Linked DNA regions of Homo sapiens: all the other regions are reported to be linked to region 4. Evidence: microRNA targets listed by miRTarBase, many of them from high-throughput screens and not tested one by one. Region 4 holds a microRNA gene; each other region holds the end of a gene's coding sequence.
Evidence for each region. The annotated mature microRNA hsa-miR-3157-3p reads CUGCCCUAGUCUAGCUGAAGCU and lies in region 4 at 1,694-1,715, shown strand. An mRNA with a match to its seed (bases 2 to 7 or 8) in the 3' UTR can be bound and repressed. Matches are read on the target gene's strand: a 7mer-m8 pairs with bases 2 to 8, a 7mer-A1 pairs with bases 2 to 7 and ends in A, and an 8mer does both.

Region 1: miRTarBase lists DAB2 as a target of hsa-miR-3157-3p. Seed matches in the 3' UTR shown: 7mer-A1 at 2,779-2,785.
Region 2: the mRNA of ARAP1 is a reported target of hsa-miR-3157-3p. The part of its 3' UTR that is shown has no 7-base or 8-base seed match.
Region 3: miRTarBase lists CFAP77 as a target of hsa-miR-3157-3p. Seed matches in the 3' UTR shown: 7mer-m8 at 707-713.
Region 5: the mRNA of NRIP3 is a reported target of hsa-miR-3157-3p. Seed matches in the 3' UTR shown: 7mer-A1 at 2,739-2,745.

What each region holds. Positions count from the first base shown.
Region 1 is chr5:39,371,280-39,375,426 of GRCh38, reverse strand. DAB2 (DAB adaptor protein 2) reads left to right here. Exons shown (of 15, transcript NM_001343.4): 14 at 343-413; 15 at 2,002-3,750. The coding sequence ends at 408. Among named protein-coding and RNA genes, the nearest start is that of C9, 8.9 kb to the right of the region's middle.
Region 2 is chr11:72,682,407-72,686,406 of GRCh38, reverse strand. It overlaps ARAP1 (ArfGAP with RhoGAP domain, ankyrin repeat and PH domain 1), which reads left to right. Exons shown (of 35, transcript NM_001040118.3): 34 at 216-365; 35 at 726-1,338. The coding sequence ends at 743. Among named protein-coding and RNA genes, the nearest start is that of PDE2A, 10 kb to the right of the region's middle. RefSeq lists an enhancer at 1,114-1,673.
Region 3 is chr9:132,572,053-132,576,199 of GRCh38, forward strand. It overlaps CFAP77 (cilia and flagella associated protein 77), which reads left to right. Exons shown (of 6, transcript NM_001282957.2): 6 at 336-1,267. The coding sequence ends at 458. Among named protein-coding and RNA genes, the nearest start is that of BARHL1, 8.5 kb to the right of the region's middle. RefSeq lists a silencer at 3,188-3,257.
Region 4 is chr10:96,061,889-96,066,035 of GRCh38, reverse strand. It overlaps MIR3157 (microRNA 3157), which reads left to right and starts at 1,637; the gene lies at 1,637-1,721. The region is part of intron 2 of ENTPD1-AS1 (ENTPD1 antisense RNA 1); the gene reads left to right.
Region 5 is chr11:8,980,126-8,984,272 of GRCh38, forward strand. NRIP3 (nuclear receptor interacting protein 3) reads right to left here. Exons shown (of 7, transcript NM_020645.3): 5 at 3,947-3,999; 6 at 3,750-3,844; 7 at 451-3,435. The coding sequence ends at 3,420. Among named protein-coding and RNA genes, the nearest start is that of TMEM9B-AS1, 18 kb to the left of the region's middle.

The DNA.
Region 1 (4,147 bases), not on the chromosome of region 4:
TGAAAGCATTTCGGGAGAAAATTGAGCCAAAATACTGTCTTGAAAACCTTTCAAAAATTTAAGTTCTTAATTTTCCAACAATATTTCTATAGCCTGTGAAAATAATACTTCCCATTTCGGGGAGGCAAATGAAATGCATCTGAACCTTGATTTTCACATAAATAATATACACTGCCATCTGCAAGCAGATGAAAACAAAACACTGTAAGCCCCATATAATGTTTGATTGGCTGATTGGCCTATGACCTAAGCGATTTTTAAAAGAATTTTGGAAGTCTTCATTGCGATTTTTTTCTTATGACTGTAACTGTATTTATTGACTAGATGATTTTATCTTCTTAGGTGGCTTCTTCTCAACCTGTATCTTCTGAGATGTATAGGGATCCATTTGGAAATCCTTTTGCCTAAATTCTGTAAGTAGAAGATCCTAATAAGCCTGTCTCAGGGGTTTTTGTGAGAAAGGGTGACATGGAATAAAGAGTGAAATTTTAATTTTAGAATTGGGAAGAGGGTAAATATCTATAATTTAGGAGTAATCGACAGGAAAATCTCTACTGAGATCATTCAATAATGACTAGGCTGGGCACTTAAGAATAGAATTCCTAAACACATCAAAAAATAGTAATATACCCTTGGGGATGTGGATTTTTATCTTATTCCATGTTCTTGGTTTTTCAGTTCTGTGTGGGAAGTAAAACTCAAAACAACACATCACAGGTTTCTAACCTTTTTACTTTCATATTGAAGTGGTTGCAAAACAACCTAGTAATAATTTGGTTTCCTATAAAGGGTTCAGATTCCATTGACTTTCTGAAGCCACCAAGTCAGCAAAACAGATTATGATCATTACTTCTCTACCATTTAACTGTGAGCAATCTCAAAGTTAGTCTGAAAGAGTCTGATGGTATTAAATCTGAAAGTTTTAACAACTATTAAAGATCTCCTTCATAGGCAGTAGGAGCTCAAAATGAGTCTGAAGGTTGATTCTTCTGTCTCATGAACTTTATCTTAGATAAGTGATTAGGTAGAATCACCCTCAGCTGAAATCCTGGGAGGGCTCAGTGTAACTCTTTCTCTACAGAAGGTGACAGCAACTTTATTCTGATCTCAAAAGACTGAATTTAGTAGGGAAAGGAACGCTCTCCCCATTTTAGAGCAGGTAGGCCAGCTGGTAGGGGTAGAACAATAGAAATAATGAAAAACAACAACAACAACAACAAAAACCAAGCCCATTTTTTTTCCAATCTTGTCTCATCCAAACAGGACTACTAAACTGTGATTTGGCTCATCTAGAATGTAATTATTTTTAATAGATAGATATCTTAAACGTGGCGAAAACAATAAGATTGAGCTTATAGGCATCTGGATCATTTTCCCTCAACTCCAGTTCTACAATGACTGTGTTTCCTGTAGTACCTTTCCATAAACTGCTTCAGAGAACTGGGTAAATCATTAAAAATGCAAATTCCTGGGTCCTACTGCAGCCCTAAGGAATTTCTCTTTGGTGCCAAGGAAATGCTTCCTTTTAACAAGAGTGCAGGTGATTCTAAAGGTAATAAAGCAGTAAGTAGATATTTAAGAGCTAGAAGTCTTACCAGAGATCATTCTCACCTTCCATTCAAGGGGAGATATACCCAAACCAATAGAAGGAGTAAACTACACTCAGAGTCAAGATGGATTGTATGGACTAAATTGAATGAACTAGACTTCTCTTTGGAGGTCCTTCCTTCTTTAGGTCATGAAGGAAGGATAGTTTAGGTCAACCTGCTACATCAATAGATTGGGTAAGGGGAACTCTCATGGGATAAAATAACTAACATTGTTGAGCACTTGCGCTAAGCATTTTATTAGATGCTCTACATTTATCATCTTCATCAATCCTCACATCAGCCCTAGGAGATACTATTACTGACATCTTTAATAATGACTTGATATTTAATACATTGATATTCAGTTCAAAAATTCTAACCACAAGTTTCTTTCTTCTCCATACCTCTCTAGGAACTTGGTCTGCAGACCATCCAGAGGAATAAAAAGGTTGGCCTTAGTAGTCAAAAACAAAGCTGATAGCCAGACACGTTCTGATTTCTGCCCTTGTTCCAGCTTTGACGTATTATCTGTTGCCTTATTTCTCATTGCCTCTTCTACTTGTAAAATGCTTTTCACTTTCTGTCTAGGTTAAAGCTAAACTGAATCTATGGCTTTAAATAAATTAAGATCCTAAACTCTCTAGCTTAAGTGTAAATGAAGTACAGTAGTTTCCCTACTGAACCCTGCCTCTTGTGTCCCTGGAACCTTCTAGAACACCTGCCTTCTACCCTCTGGTTGGGAGATGCAGCCACCACATCCCTTCATATCATACTGTTTTGAATAAATTTTCAAATCCTTATTGTTCAGAGTTGTTTGGGGGTTCTGTTTCAGAGCATAAAACCTAAAGGTTATAGTAGAACAAGGCACCTTCTTAAAAGAAATCTTGCTTCAGACCATCAGTTACAGAGAATTTCTAAAGTAAAATTGAAGCAACTACAACTTCTCCTTAGACACTTTGGAATCTAACCACTTAAGGACCTTTTTAAAGAGATAGCTTCTCTTCTTTCTGAAGATCAATTTCTCCCAAGGCCAAGATTGTCCTTTTCTCCCATTTCTTGCTAGCTATTGCAAATGAGGGAAGAACATTATTCATCTCTCCTCCCCTTTTTTTTCTGATTCTTTTTTCAGTCAGTTTTGCTCCTGGGTTCAAGTAGTATTACCACCCTTTCACAAGCAACAGACTCTCACAGGGCAAAAAAAAAAAAAAATCTAATGATTCACAGACAGATCTGGAGCCTCTCTTCATTCTCAGTAATTGCTAGTCCCAAGAACTAGAATTGCAAATGGGCACAACCTATATCCTTCCTGTGGAAGAGGAGGCCACTCTCTTGAGCTGAAGTTCCAGAAGAGCAGTTAATGTTCAAGAGAAATTGAACTCAACTCAGCAACAAAGGACTCTATTTTGAAGAGCAACATATCACAAAGCTAAATGTGATTGTGCCAAACACATTAGGTGCTTATTTGGGGTCATGCTAGGCCTTTATCAAGTAACTGGAAAACTTTTCTTGCAGCCACAATCTCAATGTCGTTAGTAGGAAGATAAGAGGGGAGAAAAAGCTGTAGAACAAATGTTTGGGGTTACCATTGAAAATCTAATGTCTGCAATATTTTTCTCCTCACAACTTGGAAACGTTCCCAGTTCATTTTCAGTCCTGTTGTGAGCACAGTTCTGAAGGGTTTATTATTGTCAAAATAAGTTTTGTTTTGTTTTGTTTATGTTGGGTTTTTAATGTTGTCTCTTGACCCTTAATGCTCAGGTTCTTGTGGGAGTTAATCAGCCACATCCAATGTTACCTTGAGGGGGAAGAAGAGGGTGATGCTCAGAAGCTAAACAAGACAGGGGCCACATGACCCTCTATTGATTAGCCCCAAGTAGAAAGTCCTGTGGTTTTATGTTTAATGGTAATAGTTGATCATATATGGCATAATTTTCTATCAGCTTCCTACTCAGTCACTATAAACACAGACTTGAAATAGTACTTTAAATGTCCAAATACCTAAATGTGCTAAACTGGAGGTAACTATTTCTAGGTAGTTGAATTTTTGAAAGTCATGATCAGCCACACAACTGTTTTGTACATACTTATTTTCTCATGCACTTTTCTGTATGCAAATAAAGCTATAAATTTACTCATTTCAATAAACTGGAGTGGCAGAATATCATGTGGTACCATCGGTTTATTCTACCTGCTTTGAGTTGACATTAGAGGCAAGCTATAAAACATACCAGTCTGAAGTGGAGAAAATGTTAGCTATAATAGATTCTGGATTGTCACAACAGTGAAGAGAAAGTGGAAATCCATGAAATAGGACCGTGAGTAAATTACCGTCTGATCTATTTCACACCTTCTTCTGTCTCAAACCCACACACACTCCCTTTCCGGGAGTGTAAGGAAGACTAGTAGATAAGACCTGTACCAGAACAACCTCAGCTGACATCCACTATAAAATCACTCATTAGTGCACTATTGGTTCATGCCTTTTACCCTTGGCTGCCTCTTGTTTTTTACTCAGTCATATTTGACCTCACCAAGACACGACTGTGTGGACTGCTCTA
Region 2 (4,000 bases), not on the chromosome of region 4:
GGAGATTGGAGTTGTTGAGTAACAGAACTGGCCGTGTTTTGCCAGAGATGCAGTCATGTTCTCCCCACAGCTGCTTCTCATATCGGCGGGGATCAAAGCTGAGGGTGTCATCTCAGACCACAGCTGGAGGCATTTCTGGGAAGGGTGGGCAGATCTGAGGCTGAGTGTCTGGGTGAACTGAAGCTGAGCCCAGCCCCTTCCTCTCTGCTCCCCAGCATGACGGCCTGGTGTGGCCCTCAGAGCCCTCACGCGTGTCCCGGGCAGTGCCTGAGGTCCGGCTGGGTAGTGTGTCACTGATCCCCCTTCGAGGTAGTGAAAATGAAATGCGCCGGAGTGTGGCTGCCTTCACCGCGGACCCTCTGTCTGTGAGTGGCTCTCCATGCCTTTGGGCAGGGGGCTGGGGGCCTGGCTGGGTGCCTGCCTTCTACTCCACAGTAGATGATTGCCCTGATTGCCCTCCCCGATTGCCCTCCGGCCCCCTCCCTCCAGCCTTGGTGGGGGCCCTCATAGGCCTCTTTGGTTCACACCATTCAAAGGAGCCCCTTCTGCCTGGCCCTGGAAGCTGGGAGTCCCCTCTGCCTGGCCCTGGGAGCTGGGAGCCTGGCTGATTGGAGTGCTCCCCGGCTGGCAGTGGAGAGTGGCTGCAGCAGCTGCAGCAGCTTCAGCGGGGCGCCAGCCCCTCTGGGCCTTCACAAAATACCTGTGGGTCTCTTGCCTTCCTGCAGCTTCTGCGCAACGTCTGAGCACAGGAGCCCATCCTTGGCTCTAGGATTCCGCCGCTGGAAGCCTTCTGTTCAGACACCCCTTATGCTCCAAGGCCTGATGTGAGCCAGCGGGGGGTGCATGGGAAACTGCACCCCACAACCCACATCCTCCATCCTGACTGCAGCATGGGGTTCCCCGGCAGGGGTGGGAGGCAGCAGGGGTCAGCCTGGGCAGGAACCTCTCCCAACTCTGTCCAGGTGTTCAGACCTCTTGGCCCAACCTGCTCACCCCACCGGGTTCACTGTCCTTGTGGGGCTGGAGAGATGGGCATAAGTCAGGAACTTGGGAGGACCACCACCCTTTCAGAGGCGTGAGGCCCTGGGGCCCTGCCGGAAGGGAGCCCCCTGCTCCTCCCAACAAACTCCAGAACAGCAGAAAGCGGGTGCTGTAGAGGAGCACTCAGCTCACGGGGAGGGAGCTCTTGGCTGAGCTTCTACAGGGCTGAGAGCTGCGCTTTGGGGACTTCAGCCTTCCTTCCAGTCTGGGCTGAGTGGGGGGTCCAGACTACCTGATGCCCCTTCCCCAATTTGGGGACTTTTTGATAATATAAATATATCTGTATATTTTACCCTATGGTGCTGAGGCCTGTGATTGGCTAAGGGGATTGGGCGTCCTGGGGTAGGAGGGGACAGGAGGTCGGGAAGCCCAGGGGTGAGTGCCTAGTGCCTGAAGCTGAGAACCTAGGCCTTGCTTTCTCCAGGCCCTGAGCTATTCAGACGACCCCCTTCCCCAAGCAGAGCCCTGGCTTGACTCCATGCCTTCCCCATTGTACTATCCTGCAGCCAGGCTGGGAATGCCGGTCCTTTCCTGGCCAGCACTGACCCTGGCTGGACACAAGCCCCTGTCCTGCTGCAGTCCGAGTCTGAGTCCCAGCTGGGGCCTGGGTGTGGTGTGTCAGTGACTCAGGCCTGGCAGCCCTGCAGCAGCCCCCTGCTGGAGACACAAGGTCAGAGCCACAGGAGCCTGAGGAAATTGAGAAGAAGCACCTTTGGGTCACCTGTGGCCCCAGTGCCTACCCCTCCAGAGGTGGGGCCTGCCATGCACCAGGGGGCTGCCCTCACTGGGCACTGCCTGGCCATCTCCACTAAGAAGATGAGGCCCTGGCCTGCAGAGGAAATAATGAGTTGCTCAGAGATGGGTTTGGGACTCCCTGGGGAGGTGCCAGACACCACATTCCCGCCTCTGCCTAGAGCCTCATTACCACCCGCTCTTCGGGGGCTCAGTGGGCGGACAGGCTGACCTCCATCCTTAGCCTCAGCCAGTGGGGCTGGGCAGAGTGGGTGGGGATGGGCCATGTGACCTCCGACTCAGGCATCCAGCTCAGTGGGGAGCCTGGGTCCAGCGGAAGACTTGGGGAGCTGGACTCCAGGTTCCCTCTCGCTGTCTCAGGAAGGGGAGGTATATGGCAGGAGACTGGAACCGGTTCCCTGAGTCCTACTGACCTATTTCACAGGCTGGGGCTAAGCCCCTTGAGTCTCCCACCTCCTGTGGGTCGCTCTGGCCAGATCCACAGGTCGAATGTCTGACCCTTCTGCCTCCAGCCAGGACAGGTTGGACCCCCTTATCCAAGTGCTGAGGGGCTGGAATCCGCTCCTGGATCTGACCTTGCACTGCCCAGCCAGCCCTGAGGCCCACCTGAGTGGGTGAGACTGGAGGCGCCCCCTGCTCTGCTAAGGCCACTGCCCCAGCTCAGCGTGCTGGCTGCAGTCCTGCACTAGGCCACAAGGCGGCAGCCATGGACCACTCATCATTGCTGGAATCAAAGCAGGGTCTGGAGGATGCCTGAGTGGTGGTCCTGGCCCAGACCTTTCTCTGCTGGGGTGTGAAGCGGGACCCAGTTCTGCCTTTGGCCTGCAGGCTGGTGACATTCTGGAAGGCAGCACCATACAGGAATGTGCATTGGAGTCCTGGGCTCTGGGAACCAGGAAGAGGAGGGAACAGCCTTCTACCAAGTACCTGCTGTGAATCGGCCCCTGTGCCCCCTGCACTGTCTGCTCTTGGCAAGGGGGAGCTAGGCCCAGAGAAGGGAGGCAACTTTCCCAAGGTCACACCATGCTCGTGAAGCAGGCCTGAGGTCCATTTCCCCTGCCCTACTTTGGTGGGGTCTCCCTCTTTGACTCCCCTCCTGATTCCAACCCTTTTCTCCTCTTAGAAATGGCCTGAGGCAGGGGGTCTGAACTGTCAGGAGTTAGTGATGGCTTAAAGTGATTTCCCTCTGGTAAGGGGTAGGGGTGACATCCAAACAGGAGCCTCAGGGCCTCAGCCGGAATGAAATATGCCTGTGACAACAGTGTTGGATGGGTTAGGGGCAGGAGGCTCTGCTGGTCCTTGTCGCAAGGATTCCTAAAAATGGGGCCTGTTGGGACCCTGGATGGTTTGCTCATTCACATATTATTTGAAGTTGGGTTGCCATGGATGAGTTGAAGACCCCAGACCTGGACCTGCAGAGGGGCCAGGAGCAGCTCTTGGAAAGGGAGGGGCTTCCTGGACAAGGAAGTGCTCCTGAGCCAGCTTTGAAGACCGGAGGCCTTGCCAGGTGTGGTTGGGGTAGAGGTTGAAATACTGAAATATTGGGGGAGGAGGACAGGGCTTCAAGGACCAACCCAAATCCAGGCCTAGCCCCTGGGGAATACGGGGAGCCCTGGGAAAGAAGGCCGAGGCACGTCAGAGCCTGGATGGTGAGGGCACTGCAGGTGAAGGGGAGGCTGGGGGGCAGAGGGGAGAGGGGCAGGGAGGTGGGGTAGGATGTCTGCCTCTCTCCTGCCTCCTTCCAGCACAACCTTCCTACCCTGCAGAGTTCTGAGGAGTCCTGGGGCTTCTGGAGAAGGAAATCAGTGGGACAGGGAAGGGCAAGAGCTGGGGCTTCTTTCCTGGCCTCATGCTCTGGTGGCCTCCAAGCCACCTGCCCACAGCCCGCTGTCTTGGAAAGCACGCGTGTGGGTGCCAGTGCTCCTGTTTACAAGCTGTGTGACTTTGCCTGAGTTACTTAGGTCTCTGATCCTCAATGTTGTCATCTGTACTTTGCGGGTATTAATAGTAGCTACCTCCTAGTGGTTTGGGCAATTAAATGAGCTAGTAAGTGTGAAGTGCCTAGCATTGCCCCTTGCTAATCCCCTTCCCACTGCACTGTCTGCAGTTTCTGAGAAGGTATCATGGCATATTCTAGTCCCAATATATTTGCACTCAACAAGCACTTATTGAACACCAACTGTATGCAGAGCGTTACTGAACACTG
Region 3 (4,147 bases), not on the chromosome of region 4:
GGGGTTTTTAATGGTGGAAAAGTAGTGCATGAAGGACACTGGCTACTAGGTCCCATTGCGTGGTCGTCTGGTCATGGCCTGGTGATTTTTGTTCTGCCTGTATCTTCCCCAGCAAGGAGCTGGACAGAAGGACGAACAGTTCCCCCAGGTAGCCCCTGCTCTCTGCCTCGTGGCTCAGCACCAGGAGGCTCACAGCACTTGCTGTGACTTCCTCCCTCTTACAGCTATTTTTATCATTATTCTAAGATTGAAGCAGGGGGCAGGCGAGGGGAGCAACTGGAATGAGCTACACTGAAGTCTCCCCTCACCCACCCACTCTTCCCTTCTATCCACAGGTGGGCCGCCACCTTGATACGTTCCCCACGGAGGCCGATCGCCAGAGAGCATTAAAAGCCCACCGGGAAGAGTGTGCCGTGCGCCAGGGGACCCTGCGGATGGGCAACTACACCCACCCCTAGCCCCTCCCTCCCCTGCCACAAGAAGCCATCTTGACATAGTGGAAAATTCCCAGAAGGACTCCCTATCTTGCCCCAACCCTGACATTCCCCCATTTTTATGCAGGTTCTGCTTCAAGGAGCTCAGATTCAAGTCTTAGGCTAATTGTTTTTGGTAAAAGTCCCCCCTTTTAGGTTAGCCAACATTAGTCTCCACTTAGCCCCAGTGACCCTCTACCTGGAGCCTCCTCCTCTCCTCCTCCTTCTCCTCCTAGGGCAGGCTCACCCTGCCTCTTCTCAAGCCCTCACCTGCCAAGACAAGCCCAAATTACAAGACAATTTTTTAGACTCCAGGCTAAGGGTCGATTCCATGGCTCTGCCCATTAAGTGTTAAGAACGACCTGTGTATTTGCTGCAGAAAGCATGACAGTGACGTGCTTTGAAAGCCCTCATTTTCTATTCCAAACATGAGTTTTAATTGCTCTTTTTGGGATGCCTGATGTCTCATCACGGCAGTATTATCTCTCTGGGACCTCTGACAGCAGGAAGAGCCAATGGTTCATTACTCGAGCCTGCCCCCGCCTCCTCAGTGCTGGGGCCCCGTCAATCAAGCAGGCCAAGTTGGACTCCTCCCCCAGGACTGACTTTGGAAGGTCAACCCACTCTGGAAAAAGCCTTCCAGGCCAGCGGGTAGACTGCTGAACACAGGCTGCTGAGCTTCTCAGCCGAATTCCTGGACACTTCCTCACTCGGTCTTTCCGTGTGTTCTTTGGATTCTCTCTGAAAATTTTATGCTGATCTATTTTAAATTAAAAATGCTATTTGTCATCCTCCTTTTGTGTCTCCATTTGAAAACCAGTGAGCAAATCAGCCTTAGAGACATCAAATGAGGGTGCTGCCACATAGAGACCTCTCAAGGTAAGCTAACCTCCAAAACATTCCAGCCACACCTTTTTTGAGGGAGGCAAATTTTCAAGTTTTAAATATCATTTCTAATCTAAGGGTTTTTTTTGTTTGTTTGCTTGTTTGTTTTTGAGACAGAGTCTCACTCTGTTGCCAGGCTGGAGTGCAGGGGCGCAATCTCAACTCACTGCAACCTCTGCCTCCTGGGTTCAAGCGATTCTCCTGCCTCAGCCTCCCGAGTTGCTGGGACTACAGGTGCGCACCACCACACCCAGCTAATTTTTGTATTTTTAGTAGAGATGGGGTTTCACCATGTTGGCCAGGATGGTCTTGATCTCTTGACCTCATGATCTGCCCCCCTCGGCTTCCCAAAGTGCTGGGATTACAGGCATGAGCCACCGCGCCCAGCCAAGGATTTCTTTCTTTTTTTTTTTTTTTTTAAACAGAGTCTTGCTCTGCCGCCCAGGCTGGAGTGCAGTGGTGCAATCTCGGCTCACTGCAAGCTCCACCTCCTGGGTTCACACCATTCTCCTGCCTCAGCCTCCTGAGTAGCTGGGACTACAGGTGCCCGCCACAACGCCCGGCTAATTTTTAAAAAATATTTTTAGCAGAGACGGGGTTTCACCATGTTAGCCAGGATGGTCTCGATCTCCTGACCTTGTGATCCACCCACCTCAGCCTCCCGAAGTGCTGGGATTACAGGCGCATGCCACCATGCCCAGCTAATTTTTGTATTTTTAGTAGAGATGGGGTTTCACCGTGTTGGGCAGGCTGGTCTCAAACTCCTGACTTCAGGTGATCCACCCGCCTCAGCCTCCCAAAGTGCTTGAATAACAGGCATGAGCCACCACGCCCAGCCCCCAGACTCATTTATCCAACTGCCCACTCAGCATCTCCCCTTGGGTGTCTGGCATTCATTGTTAACCACCATAGCCAAGGCAGACACTTGACTTTTTTTCTGCCAAACTTACTTCTCCCTCCGTCTTTCCCATCTCATAAGTAAGACCACCATCTACCCAGCTGTGGAAGCCAAAAGTCTTCAATACTCATTTTCCTTCATCCCTCCAATCTCCCAAGCAGGCAGAGTCTGAGTGGGCTGGCCCTGAGCAGGCGGTAGCACGCCATACCGCAAAAGAGTGCGAAGCACAGCTCTGCCCAGCAATTTCTGTGTGATCTTGAGCAACAGTCCTATCCTCTCTATGCCTCATCTCAGAGACAGGACCCCACGCATCACAGACTGTGTCTTCAAGCTAAATCAGGTGACCATTACATTAAAGAATGTGCATGACATGATTAGTACAGCAACTGGCACTTTTAAGCAATAGATTAATATGAATTATTATTTTTTTCTTATCACTGACTCACACTGCAGAGGCATCAACCAGAGCCCTGTGAGTGACTGAGGGACTGGGCAGGCCAGGACGCTCACGAGGACGGAGGGCTTTCATCCAGATACATCCAGAAGCTGAAGGATATTTTGAATCGAGCCCACTCTTTCGCTCTGAAATCCCCTACGGAAAGGGGAGGGGGCACATCAGGAGGCAGAAGAGTTTCCTGAAGAACCCAAAATTGGCCCCACTGTGGCAACAGAGATGCCCTCCCAGGCCTGCTTTTCCCCAGGACCTGGGCCGAGGCAGGCAGGACAGGCTCAGCTAGGAAATCTCTTTTGTTTCTCCAATCACTCCTTGCCCCATTTGCTGTGGGACCCGCTAGGGCTGTGGCAGATGCCCTGGAAGCATCACTCTGGGTGCTCTCTGGAGTCCTCCGGGTGCTCCCAGCCCAGGCCGGAAGCAGTGCTCACTGGAGAGACCCTCAGCTCCTTGTCCTACAGTGCCACCTGCTGGCGAGTCTGAGTCAGAGGCGGCGGAGATTCCCGGCCCTTCCCTCTCTCCTGGCGTCCTTCCCCCACCAAGCCTGGTTCTTCCCGCCTCATTGATTATCTGTGACTGCACAAAGCCCCGAGTCTGATTCTGGCCTGATTCTACTTTCTTGGGTATCCTGTCACCTCGGCCAAACCCCTGTCCTCACCTGAGCTGACCCTGGCTGGGGCAACTACCTGCCCTTTATGACCTGGATAGAGTCCCCACAGCGTCCAGCCTGGAAGGGCCTTGGGGATCATCTTGTTCGTCTCCCTCCACTGCCATTTCCTCAACTTCATAGGTGGAAAGTGGACGTGAAAGGAATCCTGAGTCCACTCACGAAGCCAGGGCAGTGAACTCTCCCAGGCCAGTGACGTCCACGACACGTTCCAGAGCCTGCCCCCCAAAACCCCTTCCCAATGAAAGATGGATGGAAATGGGGATAGCCTAGCTTTCCATCCCAAGTCCTCCCAGTCACGCACCAACAAATGCCGGGTGAGCGTGAGTGTCGTTGGAGGTATGACTTTGTGCCTCCGTTTTGGCTAATTTCCTCACTGGTTGGCAGTTAGGAACATTCTACCTCCTGGTTGACCTTCTTGGCAACACCTCATAGGAGGTTTAACCAAAGAGGTCCACAGGCACTGTTTCCACAGGCCTAGGGAGGCAGCTGGTCTGGGCCCTCACCTGGCCTGCTTGAAATTCTCTGAAGTCCCCTCCAAGGTAAGAGGGAGGCAGCACCACACTTATGTGCACCTGGCAAGGTGGACGGGGCAAGTGCAGGACTGGGTGCCAGAGCGTGGAGATGGAGCCGTTGGGAAGAGGACTCATGAAGATGGACAGGCTTAAGGACACCTGGAGACGAGGCTGAGTCTTCACCCACCACCATTTCTTGAGAAGAAAGGGCAGGCTGAGATACCGATTGCACAAAATCTTAACTGAAGAGGCTCCCAC
Region 4 (4,147 bases):
ACCTAGATGGGTCAACAAAGAAAGCAATTTCAGTTATCTAAGGACTCTTTAGAAGACAGAATTTTGCTGTTGGCATGCGTGACAGGCTATCTCTGTACATCTGGCGGTGTACTTTGTTTTCTCTGCCGTCTTTGTTATTCCAGGTCTGCACCATTTCCTTCTCAGAATATCTAATATGTGTCCATTAGATGAACCATAATGGTGTGTTAGGGTTTTGTATATCCTTGCTTTTTTTTTTTTTAATGTTACTGATCTGTCATGGACTTAGAGAAATAAATTAGTTTCTTACCTACCATCTTTTTTTTTTTTTTTGAGACGGAGTCTTGCTCTGTCACCCAGGCTGGAGTGCAGTGGCGCCATCTCGGCTCACTGCAAGCTCCGCCTCCTGGAGCTTTCTCCTGCTTCAGCCTCTGGAGTAGCTGGGACTACAGGCGCCCGCCACCACACCCGGCTAACTTTTTGTATTTTTGGTAGAGACGGAGTTTCACCGTGTTAGCCAGGATGGTCTCGATCTCCTGACCTCGTGATTCGCCCGCCTCGGCCTCCCAAAGTGCTGGGATTACAGGCGTGAGCCACTGCACCCTGCCCCATGTTTTTCTTTTATTTCTCTGTAAAACCTTTATAGTTTGTGCATAATATTGCTACAGTTATTTGATCCAGAAGTATTAATAACTTCATCCTTATCATGAACTGTAACCTTTAGCATTATAAAGTGCCCTTTTTAAAATTTGGTTTAATACATTTTGGCCAAAATTCAGCCTTGTCTGTTATTAAGATCTTGATCCTTGCTTTTTGTTTGAGTTTTTCTGGTATCTCTACTTTTTCGTTGATCTTCAACCTTTCTTAATCATTTTATTTTAGACCTGTCTCTCATACAACATAGATTTGAGTTTCACTTTGTGATTCAGTCTGAAGTTCTTTTTCCCTTAATAGTTGAGTTTGTTTTCATTTATTGATTTGATATGTTTGGACTTAGTTCTGTCAGATTATTTTGTTATACTTTTGCTATTTATACCTTTAAAGTATAGTTTACTATATGGAAAGTTTGCTTTGTTTTATTCCTTCTTTTCATAATTAGAAAGCTTTGTGTTTTTGTTCCTGTAGTTAACTTTGTAATACAGATTGTATAATCAGTATTTCTGTTTTCTATTTAGCCAGTATCTCAGTATCTGTAATTCACTTTTATAAGTAATAACAGAATTAGTATATTTCCTTTCCTTTATTCTATCCCTCAATTCTATCAATTTTGTTTTCTTTCTTAGGGTTTACCTTTGTACCATTAAATATCCATGTACCATTCTTACTCAATTTGTCATTATTGCAGAAAGCTTTCTGACTCCCATCTTCTCTTACTAACCTACCCTGATACTGTCAGATCATTCTTCCTAAAACCACCATTTTCTAAAATCATTATTCTTTCTAAAACCAATCTTCCTAAAATCATCATTCTTCCTAAAATCACCAGTATCATATCACAAATCCTCAGCGATATCTCTGACCCCACAAAGTCTGTATTCTCTTCTGGCTTTCAAAACTCCGTAACTCAACCTCATTCTACTCACTCAACTTTATTTCCTCTACAACTTCTCAATGAGTCTGCCCTCACTGTCCAACAATTGAGCTGAGAATATAAGAAGGGAAGGGCTTCAGCCAGGCTAGTGCAGTCTGCTTTGTGCCAACACTGGGGTGATGACTGCCCTAGTCTAGCTGAAGCTTTTCCCTTCTTTCTACACCCAGCTCAAGTCCCAGGTCCATAAAACCTTTAGAAACTCTTCAGAAACTCTTTAGAGCTTCAGAAGCTCTTGAGAATTGGAAGATGTTTACACCCAAGTTCAAGGATTACTTCCATCCCATTTCTGGTCTATGTCAGGGGCCTCTGTTAACTAGGAACTCAGGAACTCTCAAAGCAGCACTACTCTGTTTGTAACATTCTGGCTTATTATTCATTGAAATGTGAGAAACTTTGGACCACTGACTTAATTCTGCCCTTTGCAGTAATAGGACTTCTCACATCTGGGAAGACAAGCATTTTACCTTTCCTTAGGCTTCCCCAGGTGAAAACACCACCAGTTCCTTCAGTTGTTACTCATATAACATGATTCCTGGACCCATCACCAGCTTGTGGCAAAACTTGGGTTTATCACCATTCCACTTAAAATTCAGTTCACAAGATTTTTGTAGATACGATCTAACCAGTGCTGAATCTGATGGGACTGTGCCTTCCTATGATCAGAGTACTCTACTTTTTAAATCAACCCAAGGCAGCATTTGTTTATTAGTCACTGCCTACTTTTACACTGCATTTTTGTTGTTGTTGTTTTGAGACAGGGTCTCACTTTGTCACCCAGGCTGGAGTATAGTGGCACAAACATGGCTCACTGCAGCCTCGACCTCCTGGGCTCAAGCAGTCCTCCTGCTTCAGCCCCACAAGTAGCTGAGACTACAGGCACACACCACCACGCCCAGCTAGTTTTTTTATTTTTTGTAGAGATGGGGTTTTGCCATGTTGGCCAGGCTGGTCTTGAACTCCTGAGCTCAAGTGATCCACCCACCTTGGCCTCCAGAAGTGCTGGCATTACTGGTGTGAGCCACCGTGCTGGCCAATTTTTTGTTACCTACATCCCAAGAGCCTATGATGTGCTATCATACATCAGATCCCTATCACACACAGGGGCGTAAGATGAGTAAGACAAAATCCCTGCTCTCAAGAAACATATGTTCATTCTATGAAATACCTAACCACGGATTTTCAGAACTGTCGAGGTCATCACAGACAAAGTCTGAGTAACTGTCACAACCCAGAGTTGCCTAAGACCTGAGTGCTAAAGGTAATGTGATATCCTGCATAGGAATCTGGGAGAGAAAAAGGATATTAGGGAAAAACTAAGGAAATTTGAATAAAGCATGGATTTCTGTTAGTAATAGTACATCAGTACTGGTGCATTGTGACAAATGTACCATCTCAATATATTAATAAGAAGAGAGACTGGCTGTGGGCTATATGGGGACTCTGTGTACTATCTTAGTAATAATTCTGTACATCTAAGCTGTTCTAAAATTAAAAATCTTAAGAAAAAAAAAGGACAGCCTGGGTAACATGGCAAACCCCCACCTCTACAAAAAATTGTAAAAATGAGCCAGGCATGTGGTGGTGTATGCCTACGATCCTAGCTACTCAGGAGGCTGAAGTGGGAGAATTTTTTGAGCCCAGGAGGTCGAGGCTGCAGTGGGCCATAATGGCAACACTGCGCTCCAGCCTGGCAGACAGAGGGAAGATATGTTTGACATAGTTTAGATATTTGTCCCCACCCAAATCCATGTTGAAATGTAATCCCCAATGTTGGAGGTGGGGCCTAGTGGGAGGTGTTTGTCATGGGGGCGGATCCCTCATGGCTTGGTGCTGTCCTTGTGATAGTGAGTTCACTTCATGTGAGATCTGGTTAAAGTGTGTGGCACCTTCGCCTACCCCCACTTGTTCCCACCAAGTGAGATTCCTGCTCCTGCTTACCCTTCTGCCATGTTTCTTGAGGCCTCCCAGAAGCCAAGCAGATGCCAGCTCCATGCTCCCTGTACAGCCTACAGAAGCATGAGCCAGTTAAACCTCTCTTCTTTATAAATTACCCAGTCCTGAGTATTTCTTTATAGCAATGCGAGAACGGCCTAACACAAGGTTCTAGTAGGGAGAAACTAGCAAGTAAATGGATACAAGACAGTCACTCTTACATTTTTAATTACAGGTCCCTTTGAGTAGACAAAACTTTAAGAATAGGGGAAATCATTTACATATAAATTGCATACCATGTCAAGGCTTCATGGACTTAAGAACTAATAAATTCAGGGTGGTGATGCTTACCTGGGAGGCAGAGGGTGTTATGGGAGGAAACAGAGTGGTAGTCAGGCAAGGATAGGATAGCAGGTGTCCTTCCCATATGATCCCTGAGCCTGGTCCTTATGCTGTCAACTGACTGTACTTGCTACTTTAAAATCTAAGGGATTGAAAAATGAATGTTGAGTGATTCCTAAACTAACACGATATTAAACCGAGTTCCAGACTACACCAGCCTAATTTTATTTAGTGGCAGACTCTAGCTCTGTTGCCCAGGCTGGAGTGCAGTGGTGTGATCTCAGCTTATTGCAGTCTCCACCT
Region 5 (4,147 bases), not on the chromosome of region 4:
GTCCAGGCTGGTCTTGAACTCGTGGGCTCAAGTAATCCTCCAGCCTCAGCCTTCCAGAGTGCTGGGATTACAGGTGTGAGCCACCGCGTCCAGCTATATTTCCTTTTCTAGAAGTGTTCTCTCGGACTGCTGACAGGTCCACCATAAAAGATTGTTCCCGTATATGAAGTTCTGAGTGACTACCATATGCCAACCACTCTATATGGATTTTCTTATTTGACACTGTGAGGTAAGCACTTTTATTACTTCTGTTTTATAGATTACAAAACCAAGCTCAGTGAGGTTTGCTAATGTGCTCGACATACAGTCAGTAAGAGACACCTGAAGGGCCAGTAGCAATGGAGGAACAGGAGACCCTAAGAGAAAAATGCTGATGCAATTAGACTTTACCTAGTCTCCCCCACCTTCCAGACTGGAGCCCTGACACAAAGACTTTGTCAGACAAGCACACAGAGGGGAAGATTTCACTTTATTGTTACATCAGTCTCACAAATGAACCCAACACAGCCAGAAACACTGAAAGGATAAAGTGCCAATGCAGAGAGGCCTGGCAACAGGAGGAGGGAGGAATCCAGTTCGTCTCCTCCACGTCCCCAGCCTGGCAATATATTTCTATTACACAAGAGTGAGGGCAGCTGACATACCAGGCAACCCATTGTATAGACACTTTGAGCTAAGAAATAGAAAATTGTACCAGGTAGGGTCTGTGCAGGGCAAGAAAATAGAAAGAAGTCAGAAAATGTTATTTTCCCGAGTCAGGCATGGAAATATCAAATGATAAAACCAATATTTTTCAAACTCTGTTATTTGAGATAGACATCTAATAAGGAATGAGACAGGTCTGGTGCTTCATGCTACTGCCTATTTTCAGAACTATGACACCCTTTCTCCCACACCCTCAATGTAAGGTACCAGAATTTTTTAGGACTCCTGGGAAAAACTGACCTCACCTTCTTACCTTCTCAGCCCCCAAAAATTAGACCCAGTGCTCCCTCATGCACATCAAGGAGATATGAGCTAGGAGAATAATCAACTTGGAGGCATTTAAAGAAAGTGAATGAAGGCCGGGTGCGGTGGCTCACGCCTGTAATCCCAGCACTTTGGGAGGCTGAGGTGGGCGGACCACAAGGTCAGGAGATCGAGACCATCCTAGCTAACACGGTGAAACCCGTCTCTACTAAAAATACAAAAAATTAGCCAGGCGTGGTGGCAGGTGCCTGTAGTCCCAGCTACTTGGGAGGCTGAGGCAGGAGAATGGCATGAACCCGGGAGGCGGAGCTTGCAGTGAACCGAGATCGTGCCACTGCACTCCAGCCTGGGCAACAGAGTGAGACTCTGTCTAAAAAAAAAAAAAAAAAAAGAATAAACCAGCAGGAACCTTCAACATGCCTCACTGTGGCTAAGAGTCAAGGCTCAGAGTAGAACTTTCAAGTAGGGAAGTAAAGGGTGAGCTTTACTTCAACTTAGTACCAGGATAAGAGGCAGGCCAAAGTATTGCCATGAAAGGTAGGGAAGGAGCATGGAGAGGCCTCAGTGGAAAGGTACAAATCCCCGCTAGGTAAGAGAATGGGGTGTTGCTAGAGGGAGTGCTGAAGGCTGGTAACCCCGGGATCACCCCTCATGAGCTTTAGATATAGCCTCCCAACCATGGCTGTGCTTAGCTTCCTATCTAGCTTCTTTAGGTAGAGGCTGATAGGAAGGGGGCCTAGGGAATGACCCCATGACAACTGACTGCAGTATGGCTGCCTAGTTGTTCAAATGATAGTCACCAAGTTCCTAGGCTTTAGGGAGCTTCTGTGAGGCCCAAATCATTCAGAGTTCCAAAGGGCTGTTCAGTAGGGGCAGTTGCTGAACACCAGACAAGGTAGTTGGTAGTACTTGGCAAAGTTCAAAGTGGGATCCTTTAAACAAACACTCTGAGAACTACTGCTATGACACAGGGTAGACTTGGGAATATCTTAAAGGGATACCCACAGCTAGCTATTTTTCTGACTTGTCCAAGCACTTCTATGACCAAACTGAAGGGGAGATTCCATTATAGACACCTGTGTGCCTAATGTGACACCCCAGTCAAAAAGCTTCAAGAAACCTTGTATTCTCCCCAACCTTTGACAGGGGTCAGGAAATACTGGGCAGTTATAAAAAGTTGTCCTTAACATTGCCGGCTCCTGCTCTGCCTCTTTCCTTGTATCAGGACAGAACTGAACATCTCAATTCCCTGCCTGAAAATGTCATTCCCTGCCTCCCAGAAAGGTTTATCTAGATAGGCCTCTCCACCAACTGATTCTACTCAGTCTACTCCCTTCTATTCTGGCCTTGCTCTTTTTTTCCCCCCATCTTTCTCTACTCCTGGTTTCCAGCTACTTCAGTCCTTGACAGACACATAATAGGATGGGCAGAAATGCTGATCGGATCTTGGGAGTAATCAACGTCTGACAGTGACACTCTGATTTACTTAAGCCTTCAATTCCATATCAGAGAGGGATTAATATTCCTCTGTCTGTGGTTCCTCCTTTCCTCCAAGAGGTTCACAGTGAGAAACCATTTCATTCATCTTTGTACGCTCGTTTTTAGGCACCAAGATGAGGGCCTAAATGTGACAGTTTGGGGCAAGGAACTTTTACTGGGCTTGGCACACAGGAGGGAGAGCTACCCAAATCATCCTAGCATCCATCTCCAGAGAATATTCCTCCCATGCTCTGCCTTTTTTTTTTTTTTTTTAACACATTCTCACCTCTTTGCCCTCCTGTTAAAGGCTTGAATACAAATGAGGCAGCATGGGAGTCTTGGCTTGGAAATCAGGTCTGCGTTCTTGGTCCCTTCAGTCACTGACCTAATATATGAACTTAGACAATTCACTTGCCTCTCTGGACCTTTAAATGAAAGAGTTAAACTGTAATGGATAATGTCCCTGGGCTCTTTCACATAATCCATACTTGAGAAATCAATGAATCAATTTGAAGAAACTCTAATTCTAAGACATAGGTATCCTGGCACCTGTTTGAAACAGCTGAAAGGAGGTAAAGGTCAGGTTCCTGTTTATTATACATTTAGCTATAGGAAAAGAAGCACATATATCTATGGAGACACAGAACCTGGCAGCCCCTATACTTGACTAATAAAAGCAAATTCCTGGAAGAAGCAGAGAAATAGGCCACAAGTGAGACTGGCAGTGTCAAAAAAGGTCTATAAGTTAAGTGATCAAAGTAGTAAAAAACAATGGCCATAACCAGACAAGATCTCTAAGCATAGACTATAGTCTAGAGAGGTCTGAATGGGAAGGAGCCCCTGGAGCTTCTATTAGATGGAAGGACTTGGTCCACAGCAAGTCACTACGGCATTTGGTTCAAACCCAGTTTTCTCTATCTGTCAACCCGGTGTGTATGCATGCACACGTGCAGACATGCTGCAGGCTGTAGTTATGCTTCTGAAGTGCTGAAATGAGAAATAAATATCAGGAGAAATAATGCCAAATTCAAAAAAAGTTAAGCTGAAGGCAAGTAAAATTTTGCTTTCAAAGCTAGTCATTTCCCTACCACTCTGTGTGGCATCACCATTGCTCATTCTGATGTGTGCACTACAGAGTTTTGTGGGGTGATGAACTCTGGGTGTGGGGAAGGGTGGATTTGTAGTATAATTGAAAGCCAAAGACAGGATACAACCCCATGTCCTGTCTGAGAACCACCACCACCCTGCTCGCAGCTGATGACAAATGGATGTGACTTGATCTGACCCATTTGGGCACTCACTTGTCTTCATTCAAAGAGACTGTCTCCACAAAAGGGATTTCTTCCTTGTCTGTCTTCCCCATGATCAGCCGGTGCTTATCCAAGTTTATGATGCACTGAAAACAGGTAACTTGTCAGTGATACCACTATGAGTTCCTGTGTAAGAGGATACCTGCCTCAGAGAGGAAGTATCAAGGGGTAAGTGGAGTCAATCTTACCTTCAGAGATCGGAGAGTCTGTAGACCAAGGGACAAGTTTTTCTCATTGTCATCTAATAAAAACAAAAAAATGATTAAGATTTAGCCATTTCCATGCTTGCTTAGAAGTTGGCCTAATCACTATTAGGTTCCATCCATCCATCCAATAACATCCAATAAACATATATTGAGCATGTGTTATTTTTTTTTTATTTTTTTTTT